Regions from separate parts of the Homo sapiens genome. Here region 2 is linked to region 1. Evidence: fine-mapped expression QTL. A gene starts in region 1. The other region holds a variant in brackets. All regions are shown on one strand. Distances are from middle to middle.

The links. PIP is the estimated chance that this variant, and not a neighbour inherited with it, causes the effect.
Region 2: its variant is fine-mapped to the expression of TPD52L1 in skeletal muscle (GTEx, PIP 0.96).

Annotation. Positions count from the first base shown.
Region 1 is chr6:125,145,800-125,162,520 of GRCh38, forward strand. It overlaps TPD52L1 (TPD52 like 1), which reads left to right and starts at 7,974. Exons shown (of 7, transcript NM_003287.4): 1 at 7,974-8,171. The coding sequence starts at 8,153. RefSeq lists an enhancer at 8,770-9,357.
Region 2 is chr6:125,183,657-125,200,377 of GRCh38, forward strand. The region is part of intron 1 of TPD52L1 (TPD52 like 1); the gene reads left to right. It overlaps LOC100126584 (a long non-coding RNA gene), which reads right to left and starts at 14,161. Exons shown (of 4, transcript NR_149043.1): 1 at 14,126-14,161; 2 at 6,953-7,008; 3 at 818-915. The variant G/C (reference allele first, on the strand shown) is at 9,136.

The DNA of each region.
Region 1 (16,721 bases):
TGGTCAAGATTTATTAATTTTTGTTAGTTTTTAGTAATTAGAACAGTCTCATATTGGTATATGATCTATATGATTTAGTCTTCTCAATGTCAAAGTAAATCTTTTATTTTTTTTGAGGTAGAGTCTTGCTCTGTCACCAAGGGTGGAGTGCAATGGCACAATCTCAGCTCACTGCAACCTCTGCCTCCCAGGTTCAAGCAATTCTCCTGCCTTAGCTTCCCAAGTAGTTGGGATTACAGGTGCCCACCACATGCCCGGCTAATTTTTGTATTTGTAGTAGAGACGGGGTTTTGCCATGCTGGTCAGGCTGGTCTCGAACTCCTGACCTCAGGAGATCCACCCACCTCGGCCTCCCAAAGTGCAAAGTAAATCTTATAGGGAAGGAAAAGTTTCCTCAAACCTCCTAGGGCTCCTGGCTCGGTCTGAAATAAAAACCGACAAAGACAGATTAACAGGAGAAAAGCACATTTATTTAACCAAAAGCAACTTATTTAATCAAAGCTTTATGTGACGGGGAGTCTTCATAAATGAAGACCTAAAGACCTAAGAAAACTCTATTTTTATGCTTAATTTTATGTTCAGTGAAGAATGGACAGCCATGAGGAAATGTGATTGAACAGAAGGGGTATGATCTAATGGTCATAGGTTGAGAGGGGAAACCCAGTGATACGGTTTGGATCTGTGTTCCCACCAAACCTCATGTTGAAATGTAATACCCAGTGTTGGAGGTAGGGTGCAATGCGAGGTCCTTGGCTCACGGAAGCGGCTCCCTCATGAATGGATTAGCACCATCCCCTTTCTGATAAGTGAGTTCGCGGAAGATTTGGTCATTTAAAAGTGTGGGGCACCTCCTACTCTCTCTCTCTTGCCCCTCTCTTGCCATGTGATATGCCGACTCCTGCTTCACCTTCTACTGTGAGTAAAAGCTCCCTGTGACCTCCTCGGAAGCCAAGCAGATGCTGAAGACATGCTTCCTGTACAGTCTGCAGGACTGAGAGTCAATTAAACTTCTTTTTAAAATAAACTACCCAGTCCCAAGTATTTAAAGCAATGCAAGAACATCCTAACACACCAAGCAAGGCTTGGCTGTTGGATGCTTCTTGGCCTCTTGGTGTGGTGCTCCTCCCTCCAGGGTGTGGGGCAGAACCACTCTAGAATGAGGGTCTTGTGACCTACTATCAGTCAAGGTAGGCCAAATAATTTATGGCCAGCTCCTACACAGAAAGGTGGGGCAAGGTTAGAGGAATGTATTTGAATGCTTTGAAGTGAAGGAAAGGGACCTAGTATTTGGCATGCCAATGTGCCATACTTTGGTGTATAGTGTTCTGAGCCTCAACAATCTCTTTTCCTTTCTTCTCTCAGCACTGCTTGGAACATGTGTGTGTGTGTGTGTGTGTGTGTGTGTGTGTGTGTGTGTGTGTTGGAAGGTTATGATGCAAAAGTTAGTTTTTGGGTGTCTATGGACCCTGTCACTTCTGGGAACCAGCTCCTCTTGACTAAGTGTGTGGGATGGGAATTGAGAGGAAGGGGAAAAGAAAACCCAAATGACCCCATATCCAGATGGATGAGGTTGACAGTGTGTTCACTCACCAGCAGCTCCTGCAGGCCCTGGTGGAACCTAGCCAGGCCTTGTGCTGCACCTCTCTGATGTCCACTTCACCTCTAGCTTTCGGCTTCAGTGGTCCTAGCTAGTATTCAGCCAACTAATCTCCCCTGGCCTCCTCCAAAGCCAACTCTCTGGTGGGTAGACTCCAATTTCCATGTTTCCTGAGAACTGGGAAGTTGGTAGAGGTGGAAAAAAGGTGGTGCTGGTCCCCTTTCTGAGCAATCAAACTATCTCTCCTCATTCCTTTTGCCCAGCTTAGTAGTATGATGTGGGGTGAGGTCAGTAAGTCCTCCAGCTAGGCTGAGTTCTGAATGCCTCTCCCTTTGTGCAGCCCCTCCTACCCTCATGAAAGATTCTGTTGCACCCTTTTCTTCATGTGGCTTCAGGAAATGGAAGCTGCCTTTCTCCAGCCTCCTGGGGATATTGGCTTACTAGCTAGTTCTCTCTCCTCACTAACTTCCACCCCCTACCTGGGGCTTCAAGGAAACTCCTCTCTGGCTTCCTACACCACTTGAGAGGGTGAAAAATTCAAAGTGACAAAGAGCACTTGTTCTATCCCTAAGGTTTCTCAAAACTATCTGGCCATCAGAGTTCTCAATGCAATTGTCGAGGCCAGGTTCTCTTTGCTCTCATGGGAGTAAGGAGAAGAAGGGTGAAATCTGTAGACAGAGCCATGTCTAAATCTTTCATACTTCTCTGCCCTCCCCAATGTTTTTTTCCTCTCCAACTCCCCTGGAATTAGGGGTAAAAATTCTTGTGCTGCCTGCTCATATTTCTTTTTCATTATTTTCTGTTTACTTGGGTGACAACGTTTTAATTTAAAAGCTGAGACTATAGAACCTTTCATCTTTGTTGTGGACAGTTTCTGAAATGGTCATTGTCAATCTTGGAAGCACATCAGTATCACCGAGAGAGATTTAAAAAGACAAATCAGAATACTTGTGGGGTAGAACCCAGGTATCAGAAATGTTTAAAAGCCACTCATGTGGTGCTGATGTAGAAGATGACTGGGAACCACTGCTTTAAAAGCACAGGTGCCCAGTGGGATAGGAGGGAAAGAACATGCCCATTAATACCTCATATAGCATCGTGACACAAATGCAGAAAGCCAGGCACAGAGAGACTGAGACAATTCCTTTAGGTGATACAGCTGGTAGTTTTCAGAGTGGGAATCTAATGGAGCCCCAAAGCTCATGTTCTCTTTCAATGTATTTGTAAAGTTCATAGGCCAGAGCAGCACACTTCACCTGTCCTTTCTACTCCTTCCTCTCATTTCTGTGCCCTGTCCACCTCCCACGATGCCTTCAGACCCATACATTACAAGTGACCGGGAACTGGTGTAAGTAAAAACTGTTGAATACACATTTCCTTTGGACAGTTGAGATTTCTACTGCATTTCACCCCTATAGAATGATCAACTTTCTAAACAAACTTCGTTCTTATATGAGTTATAGTGCTATCGGTAGAGACCTGAGTTGATATTTCTTACTCCTTGTCATGCTTTCTAATCGCATGACCAGGCAAGCCTTGGGACAGGACTGTGAGTTTCTAGTCTTGTCTGAAAACATGACTGTCTCATGTTAATGTTAATGTCAACACCAATGTTAATGTTAAAGCAACAAAATACATTAAGTAAGGTATTTTTAAACAGAATTTCATTGATTCAATCAAACACTTGCACAGCGTTTTGCATCTGGAGTGGCCATAGAGACAAAGGAGAGGGTGAAGGTGGCTGTTTTAATAAGCTTTAAAGAAGTTAAGAAAGTTCACCATCTTAAATGACAAGGAAAAGACAAAGAAAAGACAAAATAGAAAAATCTTCATTTTTATAATATGTTAACTTCAATAATAGTCTTCTTTGGCTAAACCATTATTAGGGGGATAACACAAACTTGCCTGACTAATTCCTTTACTCTTAAGACACAGCTGAGGCAAGCATTTTGAAAGAAACATTTCTGTACTTCTCACCAGCCTGAGTTAGGAGGCTTCCCTCAGTGCTCACAGACGCACTGGGCTTACCCTTTATGCACAGCGCTTACCACGAGGCGCTGCTTTATAAAAAACCTGTTTATCCCTCCTTCTCACCAGATCATGAACTCCCTGGTAAGGAAGGAGCATGTCCTTAACCCATACCCTTAGCATCTAGCACAGTCCCTGGCATATAGATGTTCAATAACTATTTTGGAATGAATACCAATATTTTATTATTATAAATAATGATTGAAAAATTAAAAGGGTAGCAACTTAAAATGTTATAAATCAGAAAAATGAGTCAGAGTGTAGATGAAGGTTAGATGACTCAAGCTGGGAAGTCATTAACTATTTTTAGCTCGTTTTAGCAGCAGGGAGTCAACCCTAACCTGGTGTTTAATTTCCAGGGTATAGAAGACCAGAACAACGGAATAGACTTTAAAAGTGATTTAATCACTGATTCTTCACTTCATGCATCCCTGGTCACTATTACCAAAAGTCATTTAAAAGCCTTATGCTTAGTGTTCTACATAGTAATTTTAATGGCAATGATTACAAATCAGTGAGATCTTCAACATAACAAAAACCACACTGAGGTGCTCGTACATGTGCCAGGAAACCATGAGTAGTATTCCTTCTTTCAAGAAAAAAATGTAAGACTCCATTTATGTTTATTAGTCTATACTGTGCAAACTTGGGCATGGATAAAATATAACCTACTGGTTAGTTAATTGTTTATTCAATAAATCTTTTTGAGCTATGAAATTTTTATAAGACTTTTTGTCAGGAATTATGGGAGGTTTAACATAATATCCACACTCAAACCTGACAGACTTTACCATCTATTTTAAGAAAGGAAGAGGAAACAAAAACCCAAGTGGCAAACTATTCAAGACCAAATGTAAATAAGTACCACATTGTATTTTACAGATGAAGATCGTGTAGATGTTGAGAAAAAGGGGAGATCTGTAACATCCAAAGCCAGAGGAGTAGAGATGGGAGCTGATATTTCTTACTCCTTGTCATGCTTTCTAATCTCATTACCAGGAAAGCCTTGGAACAGGGCTGTGAATTTCTAGTCCTGTCTGAAAACATGACTGTCTCATCAACCTGCAAGTACAACCTACAGGGACTCATGGATAGAGACCCCAGAAGATTCAAGTTTCCTGCTGAGGAAAAGCAAGGCAGCTCTGCCTTCTTGTTTCATCTCTCCAGTCTATAAACAAACCTTTTTTTTTTGGTGATTTTTCTGGGCCCCCCAGGATAGCATTGAAGTACTGTCTAGTGTTCCTAGGTGCAAGAAGGTTGTGATGTGCCTTAGAGAGAAAATATATATGTTAAATAAGCTTAATAAACTTGATTCTGGTATGAGTTTTAGTGCTGTTGGCTGTTAGCTCAATGTTAATGAAACAACAATATACATGATATACATGAAATAAGGTGTCTTTAAACTAAAATATATAAAGAAACAAAATTGTGTATTGATCAGTTGACAAAAATGTTAGAACCACGGCTTGTGGAAACCTACCTTCGTATCTCCACTAAGAGTGATGGCTCAGTATTGTAAAACCATGTTCTCTTCCTCTGTCCAGGGCATAGTATCAGACCTTTACAGGCACAACCCGTCTTATTGCGCTTCTCTTAACTGTGCTTCACAGACACTGCATTTTTTTTTTTTTGATGGAGTCTTGCTCTGTTGCCCAGGCTAATCTCGGCTCACTGCAACCTCTGCCTCCCAGGTTCAAGCGATTCTCCTGCCTCAGCCTCCCGAGTAGCTGGGACTGCAGGCGCGTGCCACCACGCCTGGCCAATTTTTTGTATTTTTAGTAAAGATGGGGTTTCAGCATGTTAGTCAGGAAAGTCTTGATCTCCTGACCTCGTGATCCGCCCACCTTGGCCTCTCAAAGTGCTGGGATTACAGGAGTGAGCTATCGCGTTTTTAACAAATTGGAGGTTTGTGGCATCCCCATGTTGAGCAAATCTATTGGTGCCATTTTTCCAATGCCATGTGCTCACTTGATGTCTCTGTGTCACATTTTGGTAATTCTCACAATATTTCAAGCTTTTTCATTATATTATATCTGTTATGGTGATCTGGGATGAGTGATCTTTGATGTTACCATTGTAATTATTTTGGGGAACCCTGATCCATGCCCATATAAGACAGTGAATTGAATCAATAAATCTTGTGTGTGTTCTGACTGCTCCACCAGCCAGCCATTTCCCCATCTCTCTCCCTCTTCTTAGGCCTCTCCATTCTCTGAGACACAACAATATTGTAGTTACGCTCATTAATAACCCTACAATCGCCTCCAAATATTCACATGAAAGGAAGAGTCACATGTCTCTCACCTTAAATCGAAAGCTAGACATGATTAAATTTAGTGAGGAAGGCATGTTGAAAGCTGAGATAGGCCAAAAGCTAGGTCTCTTGTACGAGTTATTCAAGCTGTGAATGCAAAAGAAAACTTCTTGAAGGAGAGTAGAAGTGCTACTCCAGTGAATACACAAACGATAAGGAAGTGAAACAGTTTTCTTGCTGATATGGGGAAAGTTTGAGTGGTCTGGATCAAACCCGATCAAAGCAGTCACAACATTCTCTTAACCACAGCCTAATCCAGGGCAAAGCCCTCACTCTCTTCAATTCTATAAAGCCTGAGAGAGGTGAGGAATCTGTAGAAGAAAAGTTGGAAGCTAGCAGAGACTGGCTCATGAGGCTTAAGGAAAGAAGTCATCTCCATAACATGAATGTAAGGTGAAGCAGCAAGGGCTGATGTCAAAGCTGCAGCAAGTTCTCCAGAAGATCTGGCTAAGATCATTGATGAAGGTAGCTACACGAAACAACACATTTTCAATACGGATGAAACAGCCTTATATTGGAAGAAGATGCTACCAAGGACTTTTACAGCTACAAAGAAGTCAATACCTGGTTTCAAAGCTTCAAAGGACAAACTGACTCTCTTGTTAGGGGCAAAAGTAGCTGGTGACTTTACATTGAAGCCAAAGCTCATTTACCATTCTGAAAATTTTAAAGCCCTTAAGAATTATGCTAAATATATTCCACCTGTGCTCTATAAATGGAACAACAAAACTTGAATGACAGTACATCTGTTTACAGCATGGTTTATTGAATATTTTTAAGCCCACTATTAAGACTTACTGCTCAAAAAATGTTTCTTTCTAAATATTATTGCTTAATATTGGTTAATAATATACTTTGTCACTCAACAGTTGATGGAGATGTACGAAGAGATTAATGTTGTTTTCATGCCTGGCAAAACAACATTCATCTTGTAGCCCATGGATAAAGGAGTAATTTTGACTTTCAAGCCTTATTATTTAAGAAATAAATAGATAGCTGCCATTAATAGTGATTCTTCTGTTGGATGTGGGCAAAGTAAATTGAAAACCTTCTGGAAAAGATTCACCATTCTAGATGCCATTAAGAACATTTATAATTCGTGGGAGGAAGTCAAAACGTCAACATTAACAGGAGTTTGGAAAAAGTTGATTCCAACCCTCCTGAATGACTTTGGGAGTTCAGGACTTCAAAGCAGGAAGTAACTGCAGATATGGTAGAAATAGCAAGAGAACTAGAATTAGAAGTGGAGCCTGAATATGTGAGTAAATTGCTCAATCTCATAAGACTTGAATGGTTGAGGAGTTGCTTCTTATGGACAAGCAAAGAAAATGGTTACTTGAAATGGAATCTACTCCTGGTGAAGTTGTTCACAGCATTGTTGAAATGACAGCAAAAGATTTATAATTATATAAACTTAGTTGATAAAGCAATGGCAGGGTTTGAGATGATTGACTCCAATTTTGAAAAAAGTTATAATGTAGATAAAATGCTATCAACCAGCATTGCATGCTACAGAAAAATCTTTCATAAAAGGAAGAGTCAATTGATGCAGCAAACTTCATTGTTGTCCCATTTTAAGAAATTGACACAGCTATTGCAGCCTTCAGCAATCACTACCAGGATCAATCAGCAGCCATCAACATCCAAGCAATGCCTTCCACCACCAAAAAGATTCCCATTAGGTGAAGATGATCTTTAGCATTTTTTAGAAATAAAATATCTTTTTAAGTTAAGGTAGGTACATTGCTCTTTCTAGACATCGTGCTATTGCATACTTAACAGACTACAGCATAGTGCAAACGTAACTTTTATATGCATTAGGAAACTGAAAAATTCGTGTGACTCGTTTTGTTGCAATACTCGCTTTATTGCGGGGGTCTGGAACCTAACCTGCAATATCTCTGCGTTATGCCCTTATAGCGCCGGGAGTGGGTGCCTTCCGCCGGCTGTACAGAGCGCCGGCAGGTGGCGCCCAGCGGCGAGCTTGTTCCAGCTTGGTTTGGGCCAGGTGGACTGGAAGGGGCGGAGGTAACCAGAAGCGGCTAGTGGCGGCTGCCTGCGTCCCCAACCCCCTCCGCGCAGCGCTCGCGACACGCGTGCCAGGAGTGGGAGCGAGCGGCGGGGCCAGCTGCGTTCTGAGCCTGGGCGCAGCTGCCATCTGCTCTGGGAAGCACCAGGGTGTCCCCGCCGCCCTCAGCTCGAAGTCAGCCACCATGGAGGCGCAGGCACAAGGTGAGTGGTCGCCGATCGCCCCGAGAGTCAGGTCCTGGGGCGCGCATAAAGGCTCTTTTCCTGCACCACCTAACTTCGCTCTCGGACAGAACAGATTGGTGCCGTGTTGCACATCCAGAACTCCACTCCCACCCGCGCCTTTGGTATAATGCCTGCTGCCCAAACTCAGGATTTGCTGTGGGTCTGGGGATCAATAAAGTGACAGGGGATCCGTAAGTGGAGAGGCCCCTCCTCAGGAAATGCGCCCGTGGAATGCTCTACCCTCTTCCGCAGCCAGTCGCCCCTGGCCTTCCCAACCTCGCGGCTGCCCGAAGGACCTGTTGTGCCGGGTCCGGAAAGCGTGTTTCGCTCCCTTTCCCTTGAGGGAGTGGGGAGGGAATGTGACTCTTTTCGCCCAGCGCCGTGGACTCGCGGCTTGTGGCTCCCAAGTTAGGGAGTGAGAGGATCGCCCGCCGAGGGGGTGGCTCCGCAGCCCGGCTGCGCGAGACGCTTCCCGCTCGGGGACCCGCCTTCCGAGGCCAGGTGAACGTTACCGGCCCCCTGACCTCCAGCAGATCCACACGTGAGTCCCGGTTTCCGCGATCGGGGAGCGACCTCTGCCTCCCGTGGCGCGCGGGGCCCCCGGCCGCCCAGCTCCCTGCTCCCGGGGCTGCCTGCTGGAGGAGCCTGCGGTGGCTTCAGGAAGGGCGGCCTCATATCTTGGGGTCACACTTGGAACAGGGTTGGGGAATTCCGATGGAATCGTTCAAGAATGGGGGTAAACGGACCGTGGAAAGGGGCAGAGGTGGGCGGATGTGGAGCGAGAGACAAGTGGGAAGGAAACGGACTCAGTGATCTACCTTGGGGAGCAACGCCCAGAAGGGATGGCTTGCGGAGTTCAGCCTTTAAGGCAATCAAAGCCACCATTCTTTTACACAGTAGGAAACTCTGTGTTGGCTCTTAGTATAGATAAAATCTCATTAAAAAGAAAAAAAAAAAGGTTCATGACCTGATGCGCTCGCCCTCTAGGGGCAGAACGCCCTGAATGAGAGTGGGTTGGCGATTGCGTGGGCCTGGAGTCGCCCAACAGGTTTGCTGCCAGGATTACAATTGTCTGAACAGCACGAACCTTACTCGTTTGTTCCATCCTCCTAAGTCCTGCCCGTAAAGCTGCCGCTTCCCATATTTTTTCCTCTATTATGTAGATAGGAAATGATAATTCAACCAAGGGTGAGGGCAGTTGGTCAAATTCAAAAGCAGAGGTCAGGTTGGAGGCCTTCACGCCAGAACTGAAGCTGGTGGGAGCAGCACCGGAGCTTTCCAACCTGACTTGCATATTAGAATTATTTAGAGAGTCTTCATTACTGGCCTTGGCCAACCCCATCCCAGTCAAACTGGAATCTTTGGAACCTGAACATGGGTATATTTGAAAGCTTATATTAGTGAGGATGGAGAAGAACTATAGCAGATAGGAAACATTCATACAACTTCTGAAGACATCCGAAACTACAGACTGGTAACCACTGGTGTCACTGGTTTGCTTTATTGCTTTGCTTTACTTCCAAGATTTACTTAACAAATATTTCAGTGCTTTCCTTTGCCAAGCACTGTGCTAAGAAGAGCAAAGACAGACTTGGTATCTGCTTCATAAAATTTACAGTAGAGGAAGAGACAAATATTAATTTGATAGCTATTTGAAAAATAACATGTAAAATCACTGCCATGCTGATGCTAAGAAAGGGCCTCATAGTGCAGCGAGAGCCTGAAAAACTATAACCCTAGTATGCAATAATCAGAAGAGCAGATTGTTTATTGTGTCCCTGTCTCTGTTCTTCGTGCTTTGCATGTATTGATGGACTCATTTCCTGTGCGCAGCAGTCCCATGAGGTAGTTCATATTCTCATTCCCATTCTACAGAGAGGAAACAAGCATGGAAGGTATTAGGTTGGTGCAAAAGTAATTGCAATTTTTGCCATGACTTTTTAATAAGTTCCTTGTTTACAGCCAGATAGGTAAAAAGTAGCAAAGTGGATGCTGTGAGGGACCCATTCTCACTCAAAGCCTATGACTTTTGGAGGAAAGGTAAAACTTCAGTCCCCACCTGAATCTCCAGCTGTCCTGTGGTGCTCTTCCTTTCCCCTCATGACTGGATGGAAACTTTAGGTGTAAAGAGGACTAGTAAAAAGGCAAATGGATATGAGAAAAGTGAACAGATTTAATAAATACTTAAGAGGCCAGGTGCAGTGGCTTACACTTGTAATCCCAGCACTTCGGGAGGCCAAGGTAGGAGGATCACTTAGAGCCCAGGAGTTCGAGACCAGCCTGGACAACATAGAGAGACCTCATCTCTACAAAAAATAAACAGAATTAGCTGAGTGTGGTGGCATGTGCCTGTAGGCCTAGCTACTTGGAAGGCTGGAGTGGGAGGATTGCTTGAGGTCAGAAGTTTGTGGCTACAGTGAGCCAAAATCCCAGCATTGCACTCTAGTCTGGACAAGAGTGAGACCTTGTCTCAAAAAAAAAAAAAAAAAGAGAGAGATACAAAAAAGGCCAGCCACACCTGTAATTCCAGCACTTTGGGAGGCTGGAGGAGACAGATTTTTTGAGCCCAGGAGTTTGAGATCAGCCTGGGCAACATGGTGAAACGCTGTCTCCACAAAAAATACAAAAATTAGCTGGGTGTGGTGGTGCGTGCCTGTATCCCAGCTATTTGGGAGGTTGAGGTGGGAGGATCACCTGAGCCCAGCAGGTGGAGGCAGCCGTGAGCTGTGATTACATCACTGCACCCCAGCTTGGGCGAGAGGGCAAGACTCTGTCTCAAAAACAGATAAACAAAAAGAGAATAACAACAAAAAAACTTAAGAAAAGTCAAAATTGGATTGAATGTGAAGGAGGGCAGTGTCAAGGATGACCAGCTTCCTACTTGTACAATCAAATGGAGGATAATTACCTCTTAAATCTTTATTTGCCTAGCATTTTAAGATTTTCATTTTCAGACTTTTTGTTATTTATAAAGCAGAGATATTGAGTTATTTAAGAAAAAACTTCTCACAAACTGTTTATAGCATATATTAAAGGGAAATCTTTTTTCCACTTGCACATTTTTTCTGGCTAAATGAATGATTTGCCTCTTAGATTCTAGATAAGACAGTTCTGTGATTTTTAAAGTGTAAGTTTCCACCTTCAGCACAGTTTATTTTAGAATTACCTAGAGTGGAGATGGCTTGTCTTTCTGCCTGCTAATCTAGAGACAGGTAAAGATAAGTGAGATTAAGCAGGCAGTTGCTGATGAGTTGTACCTCATATTGTCCAGGAAGACACCAAGGTGTTATGGACATGATTCGCCCATATAGCTCAGTAAGTGCAGCAACTTACTGCACTAGAAACTTTCCCATAAGTGAAATTATGCAAATATGTTCTTTGACTTTGTAAAATAATAGATTACTTCCAGCAAAACAAGAGGACTCTCAGGGGAGGTGGTAGGACACTAAACAGGAAGTGGGATTATGGGTGGAGCTGTTCACTGAGGAGGGCTGGAGAACAACGTGGAGAGAGATGTCCACAGGAGAATGGCATTCCTATTTGCTTTCCTCTGGTACCAGATAATTTTGCTTTAAGACAACTGATATGTTAGAGAGGGAATTGGGTTGGAAATGTAGCATTTTCCCGAAACATACAGTAGTCCTTTAAAATAAAAACTTCCTGATCCTTTTAAACTACCCTTCAATATTTTATTATTCTAAATGGAAATAACTTTGTTGTTTTCACCTTTCCCAACGTCTTTAATGTTACAAGGAAAACTGTCTCCTTTTAACATTTGCATATATTCAAATTAATAACTATGTTAGTTTCTCAAGGCCACTGTAAAAATTACCACAAACTTCGTGGCCTAAAACAATTAACATGTGCTGTCTCATTGTTTGGCGGTTAGAATTCCAAAGGCACTATCACTAGGCTGAAATCAAGGTGTCGGCAGCGCTGTCCTTCCTCTGGAGGCTCTAAGAAAGAAATCGTCTTTCCCTCTTTCAGTTCCTGGTGGCTGCCGACATTCTTGGGCTGCATCACTCCAATCTCTCTGTCTCCGTGGTTATGCTGCTTTCTGTTCTGTTCGCATCAAACCTCCCTCTGCCTCTCTCTTATAAGGACACTTGTGATTTCATTTAGCACCTACCTAGATAATCCAGGATAATCTCTCTCTCTCTCAAGACCTTTAACTTAATCACACCTGCAAAAGGTAACATTTCCAGGTTCCAGGAATTAGGATATATTTAGGGGCCATCATTCAGTTTACTATAATAACTATTTTTTATATCCACTCAAGAAGAGTCTCAGATGTCCATGAATGAAATAAAGCAATAAATATCAGATTAACCCTACTGTTTGCAAAGTCCTTTAAATGAAAATGTCATTATACTTTACATTATACTTTATACTTACATTATAAGTATACATTCTACATTATACATTATACTTTACATTATACTTTATACCTTACATTATACTTTGCTCACAGAACATTTATATAATTTTATCTTGTTTCAGGAAGTACATAAGGCAGTTTATATGGATACTTGAAATGCAACAAGATAATGTAAATTAAAAATAGATGAAAGAAAATAAATGAGGATAAGAAGAGAAAAGGAAGCAAGGGATGAAGCTCTAGAAAAATGAATATAATCACATTACTTTTATTGATATTGCATGGAAGATAAATTCTTACTTTATAAAGGAAGTATGGCATTTTGTTATAAAATGATAAAAGAACCATTCTTCCTTCTGTCAAACAGCAGCAGGTCCAGTCTCTTATACAGGCATACCTTGGAGATAGTGTGGGTTCAGTTCCAGATCACCCCAAAGAAGTGAATATTGGAATACAGCGAGTCACACACGTTTTTTGGTTTTCTAGTGCATATAAAAGTTATGTTTATACTATACTGTAGTTTGTTAAATGTGCAATAGCATGCTATCTAAGAAAAGGTACATACCTTTATGTAAAAGATACTTTTTGCTAAAAATTGCTAACGATCATTTGTGCCTTCACTGAGTGGTAAGTGTTTTACTGGTGGAGGGTCTTGCCTGGATGTCGATGGCTGCTGACTGATCCGAATGGTGGTTGCCGAAGGCTGAGGTGGCTGTGGCAATTTATTAAAGTAAGACAACGAGGAAGTTTGTCACATAGATTGACTATTCCTTTCAAGAAGATTTATATATAGCCTGTAATGCTGTTTGGTAGCATTTTGTCTGCGATAGAACTTCTTTCAATATTGGAATCAATCCTCTCAAGCCCTGCCACTGCTTTATCGACTAAATTTATATAATTCTAAATCCTTTGTTGTCATTTACACAGTGCTGTGAACATCTTCACTGGGAGTAGATTCCATCTCAAGAAACCACTCTTTGCTCATCCATAAGAAGCAACACCTCATTCATTCAAGTTTTAGCATGAGATTAAAATGTCATAAATTTAGTTACATCTTCAGGCTCCACTTCTGCTTCTTTTGCTGTTTCTACCACATCTGCACTTCATTTCCTCCACTGACATCTTGGACACCTCAAACTCATTCAGGAGGGTTGGAGTCCACATCTTCCAAACTCCTGTTAATGTTGATATTTTGACCACCTCCCATGAATTACGAATGTTCTTAATGACATCTAGAATGGTGAATCCTTTCCAGAATGTTTTCAATTTATTTTGCCTAGTTCCAACAAAAAAATCACTATCTATGGCAGCTGTTTTCTTATGAGATGTATTTCTTAAATAATACGACTTGAAAGTCAAAATTACTCCCTGATCCACAAGCTGAAGAGTGGATGTTGTGTTAGTAGACGTGTGAGCAATGTTAATCTCTTTGTACATCTCCATCAGAACTCTTGGGTGACCACGTATGATATTGTTTGGCTGTGTCCCCACCCAAATCTCATCTTGAATTGTAGCTCCCATAATTCCCACATGTCATGGGAGGGAGCCATTGGGAGGTAATTGAATCATAGGTGCCGGTCTTTCCCATGCTGTTCTCATGATAGCAAGTCTCACGAGACATGATGGTTTTATAAAGGGGAGTTCCCCTGAGTATGTCCTCTTGCCTGCCACCATGTGAGATGTGCCTTCCATCATGATTGTGAGGCCTCCCCAGCCATGCGGAACTGTGAGTCCATTAAACCTCTTTTTCTTTACAAATTTCCTAGTCTCGGGTATGTCTTTATTAGCAGCATAAGAATGGACTAATACAGGTGTGTTATCAACCAGAAGTAATATTCAGAAAGAAATATTTTTTTTCTGAGCAGTAGTTCTTAATAGTGGACTTAAAATATTCAAGAAACCATATTGTAAACAGTTACCCAGGCTTTGTTATTCTATTTATAGAGCACATTTTCTAAATCTATAGATTTAGAATAATTATTTATTTATTTGTATTTGCATTTTCATAGATGAAAGGTCTTGCTCGGTTGCCTAGGCTGAAGTACAGTGGGATCATCATAGCTCACTGACACCTTGAACTCCTGGGCTCAAGCAATCCTCCTGCCTTGGCCTCACAAAGTGTTGGGATTACAGTCATGAGCCACTGCATCTGGTTACAGTTAGAATAATTCATAAGGGCCTTAGAACTTTTTGAATAGTAAGTGAGCATGTAACTTAAAGTCACCAGCTACATTAGCCCCTAACAAGAGAGTCAGCCTGTACTTTGAAGTTTTGAAGCCAAGCATCGACTCCTCCTCTCTAGCTATAAAAGTCCTAGCTGACATCTTCTTCCAGTGTAAGGCTGTTTCATCTATATGAAAATGTGTTGTTTAGTTTAGCCACTTTCATCAACTATCTTAGCCAGATCTTCTGGAGAGCTTGCTGCAGCTTTGGCAACAGCCCTTGCTGCTTCACCTTGCACTTTTATGTTACAGAGATGACTTTTTTTTTTTTTTTTTTTGAGATGGAGTCTTGCTCTGTCACCCAGGCTGGAGTGCAGTGGCACGATCTTGGCTCACTGCAACCTTCACCTCCTGGGTTCAAGCAAATTCTCCTGCCTCCGCTTCCTGAATAGCAGGGATTACAGGTGCGTGCCACCACGCCCTGCTAATTTTTGTGTTTTTAGTAGAGATGGGGTTTCACCATGTTGTCCAGGCTGGTCTGGAACTCCTGACCTAAGGTGATCCACCTGCCTCAGCCTCCCAAAGTGCTGGGATTACAGGCATGAGCCACCATGCCAGGCCTGAGATGACTTCTTTCCTTAAACCTCATGAACAAATCTCTGCTAGCTTCCAACTTTTGTTGCACAGCTTTCTCATTTCTCTCAGCCTTCATAAATTGAAGAGACTTAGGACCTTCTCTGGATTAGATTTTCACTTAAAGAAATGTTGTGGCTGGTTTGATCTATCCAGACCACTCAAACTTTCTCCCTATCAGCAATTAGTCTATTTCACTTTCTTATCATTTGTGTGTTCAGTGGAATAGCATGCTACGTTTCTTTCAAGAACTTTTCCTTCACATTCACAACTTGAATCAAGAGGCCTGCTTTTGATCTATCTTGGCTTTCACTGTGCCTTCCTTGCTAAGTTTAATCATTTCTAGCTTTTGACTTAAGGTGAGAGATTTGTGTCTCTATGTTTCACTTGAATACTTAGAGACTATTATAGGGTTAATTGGCATACTATCAATATTGTTGTGTCTCAGAGAGTGGAGAGGGCCAGGGACAGGGAGAGAGATAGGGAAATGGGTGGCTGGTGGAGCAGTCAGAACACACACAGGATTTACTGGTTAAGGTCACCATCTTATATGGGCATAGTTCATGGTTCTCCAAAACAATTCTGATGGTAACATCAAAGATCACCAATCACAGATCACCATAACCGATTTAATAATAATGGAAAAGTTTGAAATATTGTGAGAGTTACTAAAATGTGACACAGAGACATGACATGAGCCCATGTTGGAAAAATGGCACCAATAGACTTGCACAACCTGGGGTTGCCACAAACCTTCAATTTGTAAAAATAATATCTGTGAGGTACAATAAAGTGAAGTGCAGTGAGGTATGTCTCTAACTATTAAATTATCCAAGGAAAAAATTATTTTGCATTTTATGTTTCATATTTAAAATTTTGTATTGAAGTTTAGGCAATATAATAATAAACCTCAAACTATGGAAGCAAGCTGTTATATATTTTGATTTATGATTTTTAAGAGTATTATTAAGACTATTCATACAATTTTCAAAGTTACCTCCTGTAGTTTTGTTTCCTGTTTAAGTAAAGGTTTTGAAATAGGTGATGATGCATATTTTAGGTGAAGTCAGTCATTTGCAACAAATCATATACCACTGTTTTATTTTAAATTATTTTAAAATCTAATTATACAAATGGCAGCTGTTGTAGTAGATGGGAACATATTTTGAATTGCCTTCCCTGTTATACACCTTATTAATTATCTGGGTAGGCAGAATCTGAGAATTTCTTCAAAAACTTATAAGCAAAGGAGTCCATTTTTGTGGCCTATAAGAAGATGTGCTACTTAGTAATTTATAGTAAATAATAAACAAATACTTCAGCAGATATTGATTCATTAAATATTTTAATAAATAC
Region 2 (16,721 bases), 38 kb after region 1:
GAACAAAAAGCATCACGATTACATGAGATTAGAACTGGAAAACATAAAATCTGTGAAGGTGACTAATATAAAACAATAAGAAAGAGATCAACTTTTAGCAACCTTTTTTCCGCAAAGTCCAATTCCTGGCAACATGGTTGACACTGAAATGTTGGATAAACATAAATGGAATAAATGGATTATGATAGTGATTGGGAATGTATACGATATGAGCTAAAATATAGATTCTTGATACAGAAGAGACATATTGAAAGAAAAACTTTGTCTAAAATTAAAAATATTAAATTATTATTGTCTCAGTAAAATCTGGAGATTCTATGGGGAGATAGGGAGAGCATCTATCAATCAGGGTCCAGTTGCAGAGGATGGAATCCACCCGTCTATTTTAAACAAGAAGGAATTTGTTACAGAGCCATGGTAAGTGGGCCTCAGAACCATTGCACAGCTGAAGTAGTAGACTCTAAACTGAGCTTTCATGAACAACTCTCAAACTCAAAGCTGCTCCCAGAACTGGGGCCCCACATTGATGCTACCATAGCAACTTATTAAGAAGCTATTAGGATCAGGAAGGCACTGCCATCAGGACCTGCCTCGGCACCAAGCAGTGGATCCTTTCATCGGCTCCATAACTGCTCCTGTCTGCACTAGCAAAATGGATGGGATTTTTTTGACACCACATAGTTAGGGGCAGAAAACTGGGACCTCAGCCACAGAAAACTGATGCCTCCAAGACTGTGCTTGACTGTAGGAACAGCAGAAGTGGCTGCTCTCTCACAAATCTCTTAGGAAGGCATTTCACTGACCAAGCCAAAGTTACCTTTTGGTCTGTGGCTCCAAAGAGGCCAGCTTCCAGCACTTTGCAGCAAAGGCAGGTATGTCCACACAGAGAGGGAGAAGCAATGTAGCAGCAAGTATCTGGAAGGAAGAAATAGTTGGTATTTTGTTTGCATATGATAACAAACACTGGTTTCATTTGATTCCTAGTATTAGGCATTTTGTTTTCAGAACATTTTAATACAATTATTTGTGAAGGGAAGGTAACAACTTATAGAATTGAAAACAATGATGGAACGTTTACATTAACAAGAGAAAAAAAGGTAATAAGCTGAAACTCTACCTAGCCAGCAAATAGTAGAGGAAAAGAGGAGAAACCAACAAAGTAAACTAAATTGTAAATATAAAATAAGAAAAAAAAATGAAAAAAAATCAAGTGCACCATTGCTACATTAAAATGTAAAAGGACTAAATACCCCATGTAAAGAAAGATTAGGAATGTGTTGGATCAAAATAAAAGCACACATGAGTTGCTTACAAAAACTATAAGCAATATTTCTTAAAGGTTAGGGAAGTGAAAAGATGAACAGAAATATACAAGACAAAGAGCAAACAAAATAAAAACACTAAGAGCAATTTGTATTGGAATGAAAGCATAAAATAGTAGAAAGAGGAGCAATTTGTAAAGTCATAAACTTCCATGTCCAAATAACACAGCAACTATAAATGCATTTTTAAAAACTGTCACAATGCAGGAAGAATTGATTAATAATTTGGTTTTATAGTGGTATATTTTAATGAGTAGATAGTAGATAACAGGTTAGGACAGAGAGGCTTTGATGATCCAATTTAGAAACTGACTTAGTAGGTATATATCACAGAATTTTATATAGAATTTCATGTCCTTTCTCTAGCTTTCTAGTGCCATGAAACATTTAGAAAAATTAGTCAAGTACTTGGCCTGGAGAATAGCTTGAAAAATTCAAAAGAGCGTTTACAGACCACATTCTTTAAGTATTGCCCAATAAAACTAGAAATAAGTATTAAAATATAACCAAAAATTTTAACAACTTGGAAATTAAGAAACACACTTGGGACAAAGATAAAATCAGAATGAAATTCTGAACTATCTAGAAAACAATGAAAAGGAGAACACTTCAAAATCTATGAGACGAAGAGAGACTGCCAATAATAAAAGTTGATACATAAGAAACTAGAAAAAAAATACACCAAAAGAAAAGATAATTTAAAAAGATGGAAGCAGAGATTAATGAAATGGAAAATAGCAACAACTAAAATAGTAGAATGGATAAATAAATTCAAAAGTTAATTTGGGGTAATATACAAACCCCCTCTGAAACCTTTCTCTAGAGAAAAGTTAGAAATGAGAAAACAAACATAACCAAAATATTGAAGAAATTCTAGAAGATAGAGAATACCATGTATAACTTTTTGGAAATTTGATTTTTTTTTTTTTTTTTGAGACAGAGTCTCACTCTGTCGCCCCAGCTAGAGTGCAGTGGCATGATCTCGGCTCACTGCAACCTCTGCCTCCCAGGTTCAAGCAATTCTTCTGCCTCAGCCTCCTGAGTAGCTGAGATTATAGATGCGTGCCACCACGCCCGGCTAATTTTTGTATTTTTAGTAGAGACGGTGTTTCACCATGTCGATCAGGCTGGTCTCGAACTCCTGATCCACCTGCCCCAGCCTCCCAAAGTGCTGGGCTTACAAGCATGAGCCACCGTGGCTGGCCTGGAAACTAGATTTTTAAACCTAGAGCAGGGATCTGCAAACTTTCTCCGTAAAGACCAGAGAGTAAACGATTTAGGCTTTTTGGATCATACCGCCTCTGTCACAACCACTCAACTCTGTCATTGTAGCACAAAAGGAGACTTAGACATTGTAATATCAAATGGGTATGACTGTGATCCAACAAACTTTATTTATGAAAATAGGCCATGGGTGGATTTGGCCTGCAGGTCATAGTTTGTCAAACCCTGGACCAGAGGAACCCAGTATAGCAAAATATAAACTACCAAAATTGAGCTAGGGAAAATTTAAAACTTGAATAGATGAATTAATATTATATTTAGTGTAATTTCAGTTAAAGTCCCAACAAAGATATTTTGAAATTAGATTGTGCTCTTAGAGCATCTATTGAAGAATAAACTGTGACACATGACAAAGTGTTATGATAACTATAAGCGGAAGAAATTGCCTTATGTGCTGTTAATATGTACCATAAAGCCATCTTTATCAAAACGGTGTGACGTTGACACCATAGCTAAGCACTATGTGACACCACATAGTTAGGGGCAGAAAACTGGGACCTCAGCCACAGAAAAGTCAAAATGTGACTTTTATTGTATGCCTTATAAAGTTAATTTTATATAGATTAAAATCTTAACCAAAAACTATAACACAATGTAAATATTCACAGAAAAATGAGATGATCAAGTACAACGTAGTAATTGGGGTGACTGTTTCAGCCAAGGGATTGGAAATGCAAAGGTACAAAAGAAAAAAATAGGCATTTTATCCTTTATGAAAATGTTAAATATTTGCAAGAAAAAATATATCATCAAATTTAATAGACAAACAATAGGTGGGAGAAAGGATTGCATTGCATATACCAGTTAATAGATTAATATCAATACAATATGAAAAAAATCTAATAATTTGATAGAGCAATAGAAAAATAGGCAGATAATTTGAATGAGTAATTTACAGAGAGCAAAAATAACTGGCCAGCCGTGTATGAAAAGTCTTAACTATATAAGGAAATGCAGATTTAAGTAACAATATGGCATTATGCTATATCCCTTGGACAGGCAAAATATTAAAAGTATGATAATTCCAATTGCTGACAAGGATAGAGAAAGAGTAGTTTCATGTCTTGCTGGTAGAAATGTGAATTACTACACTCTTTTTGGAAAATAATCAGGCAACAGCTAATAAAATTTAAATTCTTCTCCTGGAACTAAAATTAGCTTAAGTAATGATACGTGTACAAAAATTATGCATTGCAGCACTGGTTATAGTAGGGTAGGCAGACCCTCTCTTCAGAAAAAAATAAAATAAAATAAATATCCATCAAAAGAGCAATGTTTGAATACATGCGGTATTTGCTTACCATGAAATATTCAGCAGTCTTTTAAAAGAATGAATTTTAACTCCAACATTTGGCACATACATTTAGTATGAATGGTGAAGATTAACAAGATGGAGAGGAGTTTATAGAATATGAAATCATTTTTGTCAAACAGTGGCAAAGACTCTGGTATGTGTATGTATAATTATATATACTGTAGTGTGTATGTATAATTATGTTGTAAATGTGTATGTACACACATACACACACACATTGCCAAAGAATAAATGAAATCTTGTTTTATTTTAAATCCAGAAAGTGTCAGATGCACTTTTATTTGTAATCCCCCCTTAAAGAGAAGATATTAGTTAAACTACCCTCTCAAACACTGGGAAACTAAACTGAGATTTTTTTTTTTTTAATGATGTCGAGGAACACAGCATTAGCTGGGGTATGGTGGAGAGTGGGAGAGCATTTACATTTAAGAATAATTAATAGAGATCTTGTTTTAGACGTTTCTATTGAGAAGAGGTCCTGGTTTTATGGCATCACCTATTGAATGGGAGTATCCCATAGTTAGCCAAGCATATATTAATTAGTACATTCCGCCAAAGCCTTCAGCTTCTTAGGTTTTGGAACCAGTTACCATATTTGGAAAAAACCAGTGACTCAAATGGAAACTTTACAGTGCTTCTCTCCTCTGTTAAGATATCCACGTCATCAGCTTGTTATCCAAGTGGAAAGGCACATTTTTATCCTTCAGTGGATCTGTCTTCTTCACCTAGTAAGAGCTGATTCTTCCTCCCACAGCTGTGTTCTTAGTGTAGCTAAAAGTGGGTGCACCCATCCTGTTTACTCCTACCCTTACCTTCTTGAAAAGAGGGAATAGATTGGTAGTATGTGAACATTTAGATACAATGTGAAACAATAAAATTAAATATCCTTCTTAGAAGTGGTTTTCAGACTTCTCAAAAACTGACACAGGGTAACAAATACATTTTATATCACATTGAGTTGTGTTGGTGTGTGCATGCCTGTGTGTGTGTGCATATAAAATAATGAACAAAATTTTATGAAATGTTACTTGTTCTTATTATATGCATTCCAAACAATTCCTACTCTCTTCTAGTCTACTTTATTTTATCTCATTTAAAAAATACTGATCACAGCACACTGAGTTGGCTTAGTAACCCACTAAATGGGGTAGTGACCTGCAGTTTGAAAACATACTGCATCAAAGGACTCCTATCAAAGTGGCATGCATGGCATTCCATGGTCAGAAGATTTTCACTGGACTGGAGAGACAGTTGCTCAGTGAGGTCAAATACAGACCTAGGCATGTTTTACTTTATTTCACATATGCCAATAAGGTCAGCTTATGTGAAAGACCTTCTGACAGCAGGTTCCTTAAGGTAGTTTTAAGTTTACCTTGGGCCAAAGCCTTGCAATACTTTTAGAGAATTAGCTTAAGCTAGAGGCAAATAAATTTTAACTGCTGTGGTAGATGCCTTAGCTAACGATTTTTCTCCTACAGTTGGGACTGTCATGAGAAGACTGGTCATCTTGGTATAAATAGAAGGCATCTCAGTTGATTTCAACTCTGCCCTAAGCTTTCTTGGATTCCTCTCCCATTTAGGCTTTAAAAGAATAAGCTAAAGTTGGAAAAAGAATTTCCATATGAAACTAAGCAACACTTAAGTATATTCTTTTATAATAATAACCCCAGTTGGGCATATTGACTACTTAATTCTTCATAATCAGTAGAGATCAGTTGTACACTATTCTAAATACAGGATTTGTGTGGGTCATAAGAACAGAGGTGACTTATGTACAGGCATTTAAAGTGGAAGTGTTTGAAAATCTGGCTCATACTTTGACTACAAAGTAAAATGATGTGTGTTATATCTAACTGGATTTGGGAGCAAAGAATTTCAAAAAGCCAGTGGAAACTGGACTCTGCCTGTGGCCTCTTTTACAATATACCTAATTTAAGATGTGTATAAGACACATTTTTAGATATTCACTAGGAAAACAAAGGCTTTTCTATCCTGTCATTTACTTAATTTTTTTAACCTAACTTATTTTTCTGAATGATTAACATTGATGCCTTTGATTGTGTGGGTGTTGTCAAAAGAGAGTTCATCACATGGGGAAAGGTTGGCAACCTCTCTCTGCTTGGTACTTTTCCATGAGCCTCCTTTCACTATTCTCATTGTTATTTCCTTTTCACTCTGAAGTAGTTCCAAATCTGATACTGAAGGAACTCGATTTTATTTTACATGAATATTTGAAGTAAATTGAGCCACTTGTGTTTTAAGGTTTGTTTAGTATGCACTACACAGAGAAGAATATAAAGTAAAAGCAATAGCAATAATAACTTAGGTTTGACAAAACACATAACAAAAAAGGGTACTTTGAGACACAGAAAGTCAAATTATAGGTAACCCTAAAACTCACCTTTCCACTTTCCTTTCTTTACTAGAATTCTCTACCAACATTGGGGTGTCGGTGGTGGTTAGGACAGAAGGAAGTATAGATATAGCTATCTGCTTCTAAGACATTTGCCATGTCTTTCTATGGCTGAAGACAACTTCAAAGTAACTAAAAGTGCCACTGGAAATAGTTTCTGTGAACTATATTGATCATAATTTGAAGAATTTCTACCAGCTGTGACTTTGTGAATGGCAGGAATTCTTAGTTTGTAGGACTGTCAAAATATGACCCCAATTTTGTGACCAGACCCAAATGAAGCCGACCGTTGTCCCTGGTGGTCCATTTTCTGTTAGGTTCTAGGTCATTTTTTTCTGAAAACAGTACTGAAGTTGGTAGCTTGTGGGAGTCACTGCAACAACCAAACTGATAACGGGAACCCATGAGACTCAGAGCCATGAAGACTGTCCCAGCACGCTTTACAGCAGCAGTCCCTAACCTTTTGGGTACCAGGGACTGGTTTCCTGGAAGACAGTTTTTCCACAGACGAAGGTTGGGGGATGGTTTTGGGATGACTCAAAAACATTACATTTACTGAGCACTTTATTTCTATTATTATTATATTGTAATATATAATGAAATAATTATGCCACTTACCCTAATGTAGTCAGTGGGAGTCCTGAGCTTGTTTTTCTGCATCTAGATGGTCTCATCTGAGGGTGATGGAAGACAGTGACACCATCAGGCATTAGATTTTCATAGGGAGTGAACAACCTAGATCCCTCAATGTGCAGTTTACAATAGGGTTCGCACTCCTTTGAGAATCAAATGCTGCCACTGATCCCACAGGTGGCAGAGCTCAGGCTGTAATGCAAGCAATGGGGAGCCACTGTAAATACAGATGAAGCCTTGCTGGCTTGCCTGCCACTCACCTCCTGCTGTGCGGCCTTGTTCCTAACCGCCTGTATGTAGCCCAGGGGTTGGGGACCCCTGCTTTAGAGTATGTTGTACTGAATATATCATTCTCTGTTGCTACATCAAGGTAACAATGGCACCATCTACTCTTGTTGTCTTGACTCTACATATTAACTATAGTGATTTGTATATCGTGTAACATTATGTGGAATCTTAATATGATTTTAAATTCACTTGTCCTCACAACTACAGTTAACATTTCTCTCTTACATGGAATCATTCCTTGCTGATCTTGGGTTTTCTTTTCTTGCTGTGGAGTTGCGTTGTTGTTTATTTTGTTCCAGCCACGCTTTCTTTATTCTCAGTAATACTCTTAGCCCAATTTCCTGCTGAATGATTTTGCAGAAGAACAAATTGTCCTTTGGCATTTGCACCTGTATGTCGCTCATTGTCCACTTGCTTGATGTGTTTCTGTGAAAGGGGGCAGCTTTTCCTTTTCTAAATGAAGAAGGGAGAGTCCAAACGTTTTTTTCCAGCTCCCATCAAAATATGGACTTAATTCCTTTTCTTTGATTTTGAAAGGAAATGGTGAAGGGATAATGATGTGTTTAAAATTGGGTGAATTGTGTTCTTTCTTCTAACTGAAACAGTGCAGAGGAACCTACCCATTGTGAAATGTTACTTGTGCAGCATTGTAGATGTGCAAGAACGGCAGTGTTTTCTACTTGGCTGGCTATCCTGGCATATAGTTCATCAAAATAGAGAAACAGGGTGCAGACATTCTGAGTGTAAGACCAAATGAACTCTAAGCATGTTTACCTCCCTATCATCTGAGGAGAGAGAGAGCTGGGAGTGAAGGAAGAAGTGAACAACTGTGGAATGTCTCCCTATCCTCAGTGGCCTTCAGATACCTCTGTTTTTTCTCCCCCTCCCTTCTGTTCATTGGGCACTGACATACCTTGTCATTACAAGCTATTATTATTTTTTAACAAGGTAAGTTCAAGAAGAAATGAAAAAGAGCCAGTATTCATACTGTGTAATAGCATATGGACTTTGCTATTCTAAAGCAGAATCTAAGTAGAATCAAAAGATTTGAACAAAATTATGAATGAAGGACCCTGACATATCTACTAAATAGTCACCAGCTTTCACGATAGCTTCTGTAGCATGCCAGGGGGGAAGAAAGCCACGTTCTTTCCTCACTGTTCCCTTAGGGCCTTTGTTGTAGGAGAATAGTGGGAGGGGCTGAGGTTGGCTTTGACTACAAGTGGAAATTTTTGTTTTCCTGATGAGCCTGGCACTCAGGACACTAGACATTTAACTGTAGGTTTATGATTGTCACCCACTCTGCTTTTAATGCCAAGAGTTTCAGAACCCGGCTGACCTGAGCAGAATAAAGTTCTTTGGGTTCAATCTGCAGCAATCAGAATTTTGAGAACAACAACAAAAAAAATCTTTTTTTTTTTTTTATCTGGTGTTGCCTCAGCAGGATCCCCGAATGTACTTGCTGGTAGCTTAGAGCATAGTCTATGCAGGGGAGGAGAAACAGAGTTGCAGCTGTGATGTGACTCATTCATACTATGTTCTTTTAATGGAGAAAAACCTGCAGTGACATCATCTGGCCACCAGGGGTTGTGCTGTTGCCAGAGAGCCCTTGATTTTATCTGCCCGCAAGTCCTGAGGCAGGAAGTAGCACCTTAACAGAGAGCCCCATCTTCATTCCTAAGAAAACCAGCATCAGTTTTTTGTTCCCTTTGTTGACTTTCCAACTAGGGCTGAGCCCGCTTTTCTGAATTAATAAGAACCAAGAAAGAAAAGGGAACATTAGTCGTGGTTCCAAATACCAACCAAGCACTTTGCTGCATACGGTCGGCTTTGGTGGCGGGCCTGAGTCTGCACCCAGATGGACCCATATGGACTCACCT[G/C]TCTCACATCTGCACCTGACTTGCACATATACCTTGTTGATAAAGCCCAGTGACAGCTGGATCTATCACAAATGTCCCACCTGATTTCTTGGAAGCTTTGATTAGCATCCATGTCCTCCATGGCAAACATTTAATTATAAGGGCTGGTTGTTGATAATAATCATTGCTAACATCTATTTATTATCCTTATGTGTTAAGCATTGTGCCCAACAGCTTATACAATTTAGTCTCATTTAATCCTCCAAGTAGCTATTTGAGATAGTTACTATTATCTTTCTTTTGCAGATGAGGAAAGTGAAGCATAGAGAAGCTAACTGTGATGACTGGGATCACTCTGCTGATAATTGTGTTGCTAGGACTAGATTCAGGCCCCTCTAACTCTGAAAGCCAACCACTTAAATGATACTTGATTTTCAAGTTGGGGGGATGGAGGCTGTGGCTAAGACCTGTCCCTGGTGGGGTATAGCAGAAGGACTTCGGGGCTTTTTTGTTCAAACTGCTTATGTTTATGTTCTCCTTTCCTTTCCCTCATCCTTTCCTTCTCCCTCTTCTGATATGCTTTCTGGGTAGGGTGGGGTGAGGTGTGTCCGTTGCTGTCACACTGAGTCACTGTTCCTCATGGGTGTGCCATAGCCTTCAGGAGTATTGGGATGGGAAAATAGCTGAGAACCAGTAGACTCAAGAATGGTTGCAAAAGTCCCAAGCAGCTTTTCTGTGAATTATTGCCTTTGGTGCTCTCTCTGTGATGGCAGAACTTCACAGGCCACCACACTGCTGTGGGTGCTGAGGAAGGGCAGAAAATAGCCATATATATGGAAAACATATGCCTGTTACAAATATGAAAATATATACATGAAAAGATACCTATGCAACACACATACAGATGAAAAATATATGCATATATTTTAAAAATATATGAAAAACAAATATATTAATTCATGTGTGTATATATGTCCTCCTCTCCCAATTCCAGCATCAGTGTTGGTAAGAGTGCAAGCTGTTATACATTCATTATGCAACTGGTTTTCACTGAGCAACTGCTAGGAGCCTTGCAGAGTGAGCTGGGGCTTTGGTGGTCATGAAGCCCTGGCCCGGGGCTTCAAGGAGCTCACAACCCAGTGGGTTTTTGCTTTTCTTGAGGCTAACACTGATGGTTCAATTTATAGATCAAGTCTCTTCAATCATAATGATTCAGATAAATAGAGAATTTTGTGGAAAAGTCTTCTGAATAGTTTTTTTTTTTTTTTTTTTTCTAAAAAAACAAAAGGCTGATAAAAGGACAAGGCCCCATGCTTTTTAGTTTCTAATAGTAGTGGACTGGAACTACTTGTGGATTTTGAGTTTTTGTTTTTGTTTTACTTAATTATAGGATTAGTTTTAGGTGTGACTTTTTCCATTTCCTTTGGAAGCGTCTAGTTTGCAATAAATTAGAAATGCCAGCTGACAGCAGGCTAAGATCCAGAAGAACCATTAACTCACCATTAACTCTACAGTCTCAGCATTACTGAGCTTTCTGTTTAAAGGTTAAGGCCGTTTATAACTCAACAACCCCTCAGGTCATTCATGAAATACATCGCAGCACCAAGAAAGTAGTGTTTTCTTCCTTAAACACATCTCTTATCCCATCATTCTTCTGCTCAAAAATCTGTGCTTCTCTACTGCTTCCAGACTCCTTACCATGGAATTCAACGTCCTCTATGATCTGGACCAAATGTCCTTTTTGGCGTATTTCATACTATCCTTAGGTTCCCCTGGAACCCTGACCCCAGGCAATCAAGCAGCTCTTGGTTCTTTCAATGTACCTGATACTTTGCCAATGATCTTCCATATAAGATGCCCTCTCTACCTCTGTCTAAATCTTATTTTAATATATGTGCTGCCGAAACGAGAATGAAATCTTCCTACTTTGTAAGACCAAACTCAGACAATATTACCTCTATGAAGATCTTTGGTGTCAGCTATTGGAATTAAATATTCCTTATTTGTGTTAATAGCACGTAGTTTAAACCTTGGTTAAAGCATTTAATGTTTTCTTTTCTTATTTATAGTTAGTTGGTGTCAACCTAAAATAATCAAAAGGGTCAGAATCTGACTTAGAGAGAGTTTATTCAAGGGCAAAGTTTGAGGATAGCCCACCTATAAACACCAGCTCCAAAGGAATGGAGTCAGTGTTCTGAAGTAGGGAAGTTAAAGTTTCATTTATATATAGTCAGAGACCAGGGAGTTTTTAGCAGGATTACAACATTTTTCTGACAAAGTTGGCACACAATTGCAGCAATTTGATTGGTTGTATAGGCTGTGTTTCTTTTTGGGAAGGATACATATAACATTTGTTACAGAGGGTATAGTGGTTATGGGTTTTCTGTCAACTGGCCTAAGCAAAGCAGGACAAGAAAGGGGAAGTTAATCTGTAACAAGGGTCATTAAGATGGCAGCAGGTTTTTGTCCCTGTTGTTGTTTGAGTCTCTCTAGTCACTGTACAGAACAAGAACAATAAGAAACAAGTTGTTCTATAATCTGAGAAACAGAAGTCACAACCCTGTGTGGCTCAGATCACAATCACATCTCTCTCAAGGCTTAAAGTGTCTTCAGGGTTCCAACAGGTTTTAAATCATATTTATTTTCACACTGGGTACATTGTGGACCGCTAAGTCCTTTGAGAGTAAGAAGCATGTCTTCTGCATTTTGTGTCACCCATCCATGAGAGAAAGGTTTTATATAAAATGAGTAAATTTTTGAGTGGTATAAGATTAAGTAAATTTTAGATCTATGGAAAAGGCACTTACGTGAAATTCTCTGATGATACTGAACAAATTGCATTGTTGTCTTGGTCCAGTCAACAGGCATCTTTTTGATCCTTTGAGGTACCAAGCAGGTTTTACCCTTAGGGCATCTGACCTAGCTGTTACCTCTCCCTGGAAATCTCTTTTATTCTGGAATGTCACATAGCAACTCCTTCTTAAGGCCAAGTGCACTGACCCATCTTAGAGAGGCTTTCTGCAACTTCTCAGACCATTGTTGGTTTTGCATGGTGACAAAGCCTGTCTCCAGTCACTCCATCACAGTGCCCTGTTCGCGCTATCACAGCCAGGCCAGTTGTTGCCCACTTGCTCATCATATGCATCTCTTAAGCTTCAGGAGAGCAGAGGCCCTGTCTGCTCTGATAATCATTGTATCTCCAGGACCTAGAATAGTGCTGAGCTCACAGTAATGCCCCTTACATCATACTATATTATTTAAAATCAGTGGGTTTTGACATTGGCTGCCCATCAGTGTCACCAGTGGGGATTAACAAAACACAGATGTGCAAGGTTAACCTCAAAGATTCTAATTCAGTAGGACTTGAGTGATGCCCTTAAATTTGGCTCTAAATGTATTAATCATCAAAGACTCAGGAAAACAAGGAAAGATAAGCTTTCTGTAGCTTCCAAAGTTGTAGCTGTTTTTAAAATTGTTTATATTTTCTTTTAAACTCTCATCCCATATCCTTAAGCCTTGTGACTGCCACAGAGAGAAAATAAGATCAAGCATGAGCTTACATTAGCCACAGAAACACCTGGGGCAGTTCCAAAGTTTTAATTACTGCTTCATTAATGTAAAAGCTTAACTATAGTTGTAATGTATAAACAACTTTTGGCATGTGCCCTGCAAATGCAAAAAAGTCTAAATAATTATTGTCGTGGCTCCTGTCTCAACGCAAGACCAATGATCGCCAAATTATTTTTAAGACATGGACTACATTAAAAAGTTATTGAATTATGTTTTCTGTTAGCTTATATAAAGCACATGACATTTAATAACTTGCAAAGAAATGCTTATTTTATCTGTAATATATACTTTGGTGTTTATCAGATTCTGTTCAAACTGTGTAGCAAATTTCCTTGAAAATAGAACTTTCTTTTTTCCTCACATCCCTGTATTTGATATCAGACTATTCTTAGACTCTCCACCTCACTCATCACCATGGTGTCTACGGACTTATAAGTATGACATGCTGTCACCCTTATTTATACATGAGGTATGGAGGTGAGCGTGAATAAGAATCTTGCTCAGAGCCAATTAGTTGCAGATCCAGCATTGGAATTCCTCTCCCATAGTATCAAAAGTGTAGTCATATTCCTAGATCATTAGGCAGGAAGAAAAAGAAAATAAAAGAAAAACTACTCAGAGACATCTGGCCGGATCTGTGCCTTTCATCAGAATAATCATGTCCTGAATCTCCCACTGGGGTTGTCAGAAAAGATTTTTCCCAAGCTTTTCTATACCACGGAGAGCTACATTTAATTTATAACCTGAAAGTATCCCCTAAAACAGACTCATAATCATGCTTGCTGAAATTTTAGCCCAGCCTTCTTGCTTGCTGAGAAAAGAGCTGGCTGTCCTTTCTCTTTGAATAAGCCTCCTTGTATGAACAGTCTCTAGAGATGTCCCTTTTCCAGATGAAAATCTGTTTTATGTGTTATCATGTTGACCTTCCAATCCCTTGAATGATTTTACGTTTTCATCTTGGTAGGTCTGTTCTCTCTATAATCTAATTTAATAGTTCTAATCTGCACATATCCACCACATATCTAGTTCAATATCAAGCAGGTATCCAGTGAGTTCACAAACTCAGAAGGGCAAGAAATATAACTTTTCTTATTTTTCGGCAACTCATTTTCACTTCTATTTTGAGTTCTTTTTCTACCAGGAGAATTTTAGGGAAATGTTTGCCCCCAGATCAAGAGACACTCTCCTCTTTCTGCTTGCTAGGCCCAAAAGAACAGACTCTTTTGAAAAGTGCAGAGTTTAGAACTCTAAGAGGAAGAACAGTCAGAAGGATTTTTTTTTAAGCAAAGTCTATTTTTCACCCAAGGTGGAATATAATATAAAGTACTAATCAGTTATACAAACATGTTATTTATAAAATAACAGCCCACTAAGCGTCAGAGGTGAGGGGTTGCCCCATCCAATTTTCAGAGTCTAAAAGAGGCATCTGGGTGTCCATTACCTGAAACAGCACAGGCGCTAGTGTCTCCAGAGAAAAGGAAATGGAAGAGGGAGGCAGGGGATGTTACAACAGGGTGTGATTAATAGCAGCTCACTGCTGGAGTTCACTCAGGAAAGGCTGGGTAAATGCTGCAGCTCAAGGTCAGTGTGAGGCAGGCCAAGGGATCGGTTAGCCCTGGAACTTCTGAGTGAGTCCTTGGCTCCAGTTAAATAAGAAGCAGCCAAGATCTGGGAAGGTCAACACAGTCAAAGCCCTACCAGGAACTAGGATTATACCCTGGGCTTCAAGCCAAGACCAGGGCACTCTGGCTGATCTGAGTGTGATCTTGAACTCTGCTTTGCCCTCTGAGAGAAGGAGCCGAAGCTCTGTCTACCTTCAGGGACAGAGGTCTGGAGTTAGTTTCCTGATTACAGCAGGAACAACCCAAGAGGCCATCAGATACTGGGAGGTTCTTACAGTGCTCTAAACCCTTTCAGGCAATTTGAGTCTTCTGTGTCTATTGTCTTCACAGGCATCTTGTATAGTGTTGGAAACCTATAGTGATAAGTGATTTTCAGCTACTTACTAGAGATGGGAGAATTTCAAAGTCCTTTCCTTCATTGTCCATCTTTACTCATTTGGGTAGAGTTATACCCAGTTCTATCCCTGCATACATACTTGCATGCATGGGGTAAGAGAGATCTATTTACAAACACGTGACCACAAACACATGACCAGCTTCCAAAGCTGAGAATGCCAAGGACACATGGAAGTTATTGGTCACCTGAGTATAGAAAAAGCAGGGAAACCCAGCTCAACCACTTTCTGTCTATGAACGTCAATTTTCCTCTTTATAAATTAGGGATGTGTATAAAATAATGTGCATAAAATCTTTGGCACAGTGCCTAACACATTGTGAACACAAGTGTCAGCCAAAATTATGAGCATGCAGCTGTCTCTGTGTCTGTTGAGCAGAGCTTCCTCAATGTGTTGTCAATGGCTCAATTTTGGAAACGGGCAATGTCTCGAGACAGTGCTGATTGCCACAACTTACGGGATGAGTACTACTCGTATCTAGTTGGCAGAGGCCAGATATACTGCTGAGCATCCTGCAGTGAACACACAGTTCCCTACAATCACAACAATGAGTTCCCCTACCTGAAATTCCATAGTGCTGAGGCTGAGAAATCCGGCGAAATGGTCATAGCAAGATGAGATGAGTTTAGCTGATTTCCTTCATCCTTAGGAATAAGAACATGTTAACATATTAACATTATTGACCTCTACCAGCACTTAAAGGACAAAAAGCCTATCAAATCTAAACCTTGCTATGAAACAAAATCTGATTCTTGTGAGAGAAAAGTCTTCCTTGATTCTCAAGAGAAAGTAAAAGGTTTTTGTGGTTTTGACTTAAATAATTCTAATGACTCGATTTGTTTATTGGACAATAGATTGAAGGAGCTAAGCTGGATTTTGTTGATTTTAATTTTTACCAGTAATGTAGTATAAAAAATGTTTTGCTAGACTTGTATGATTTACTAAATAATTATTGATATTTGCATATCATGTAGGATCAAGAAAAAGTCACATGTTAAATTCTGTGTACAGAGATAATTATTTTCAGTCAAATGAAAGTAAAAGAGGCCAGGCGCAGTGGCTCACGCCTGTAATCCCAACACTTTGGGAGGCTGCGGCGGGCAGAATCACCTGAGGTCAGGAGTTCAAGACCAGCCTGACCAACATGGTAAAACCTCATCTCTACTAAAAATACAAAATTAGCCAGGCGTGGTGCTACATGCCTGTAATCCCAGCTACTTGGGAGGCTGAGGCTGGAGAATCACTTGAACCTGGGAGGCGGAGGTTGCAGTGAGCCAAGATTGCACCATTGCACTCCAGCCTGGGCAACAAAAGCAAAACCCCATCTCAAAAAAAATCAAAATAAAAGTAAAGGAGATATTAAGTTTAGCTTGCCTGCAATATACAAATTAAATGTGCTAGAATTGAGCACTTATAGCACAAATTATAGGAAATAAGATAGTGAAAAATTAAAAATTACTTAGGTCATAAAAATGCAGAAAATACATAAAGATGCTTTGGAGCCATAGAGCACCTGTTAAAGCTTGACTTTCATTGTATTTCCATGTTGTTCCATTACATTAGGGGAAGCCTCCTTAGTGGCTCATCACCTCATTGCCTAGACTGGGTAAGCAGGGACACAGGGTCATTGCTACCTTTCACAGGTGCTTTACTGTGCTAAACTTCTGAAAAGCCACCTTTTAAAAAGGGAACATGCATTTTCAAAGCCACTGATTATTAAACCCCTCTTTCAGTCATCTTATTTGCAGACTTTCATTTTTGAGCTTTGTTTGCCATCTGGGAAGGATTTTGAAAGAGAACATAGGCCTCTTCCTGCTTTTATGTTCAGCATGCCATGAATTGCATTAATGAATTCTTAAGATCGTTTGATCTATTTAAAAAAATAGCTCTAGATTCAGTCAGTTGTTAAAAAAATGTGTTCAAGATTGTCTATAATTGCACTAGCCACAAACAGATTTTCGTAGGTATTTTCTTTGTAAAGAATCTATTTGAAATATTGGAAATGTTTTCAGGAACTAGA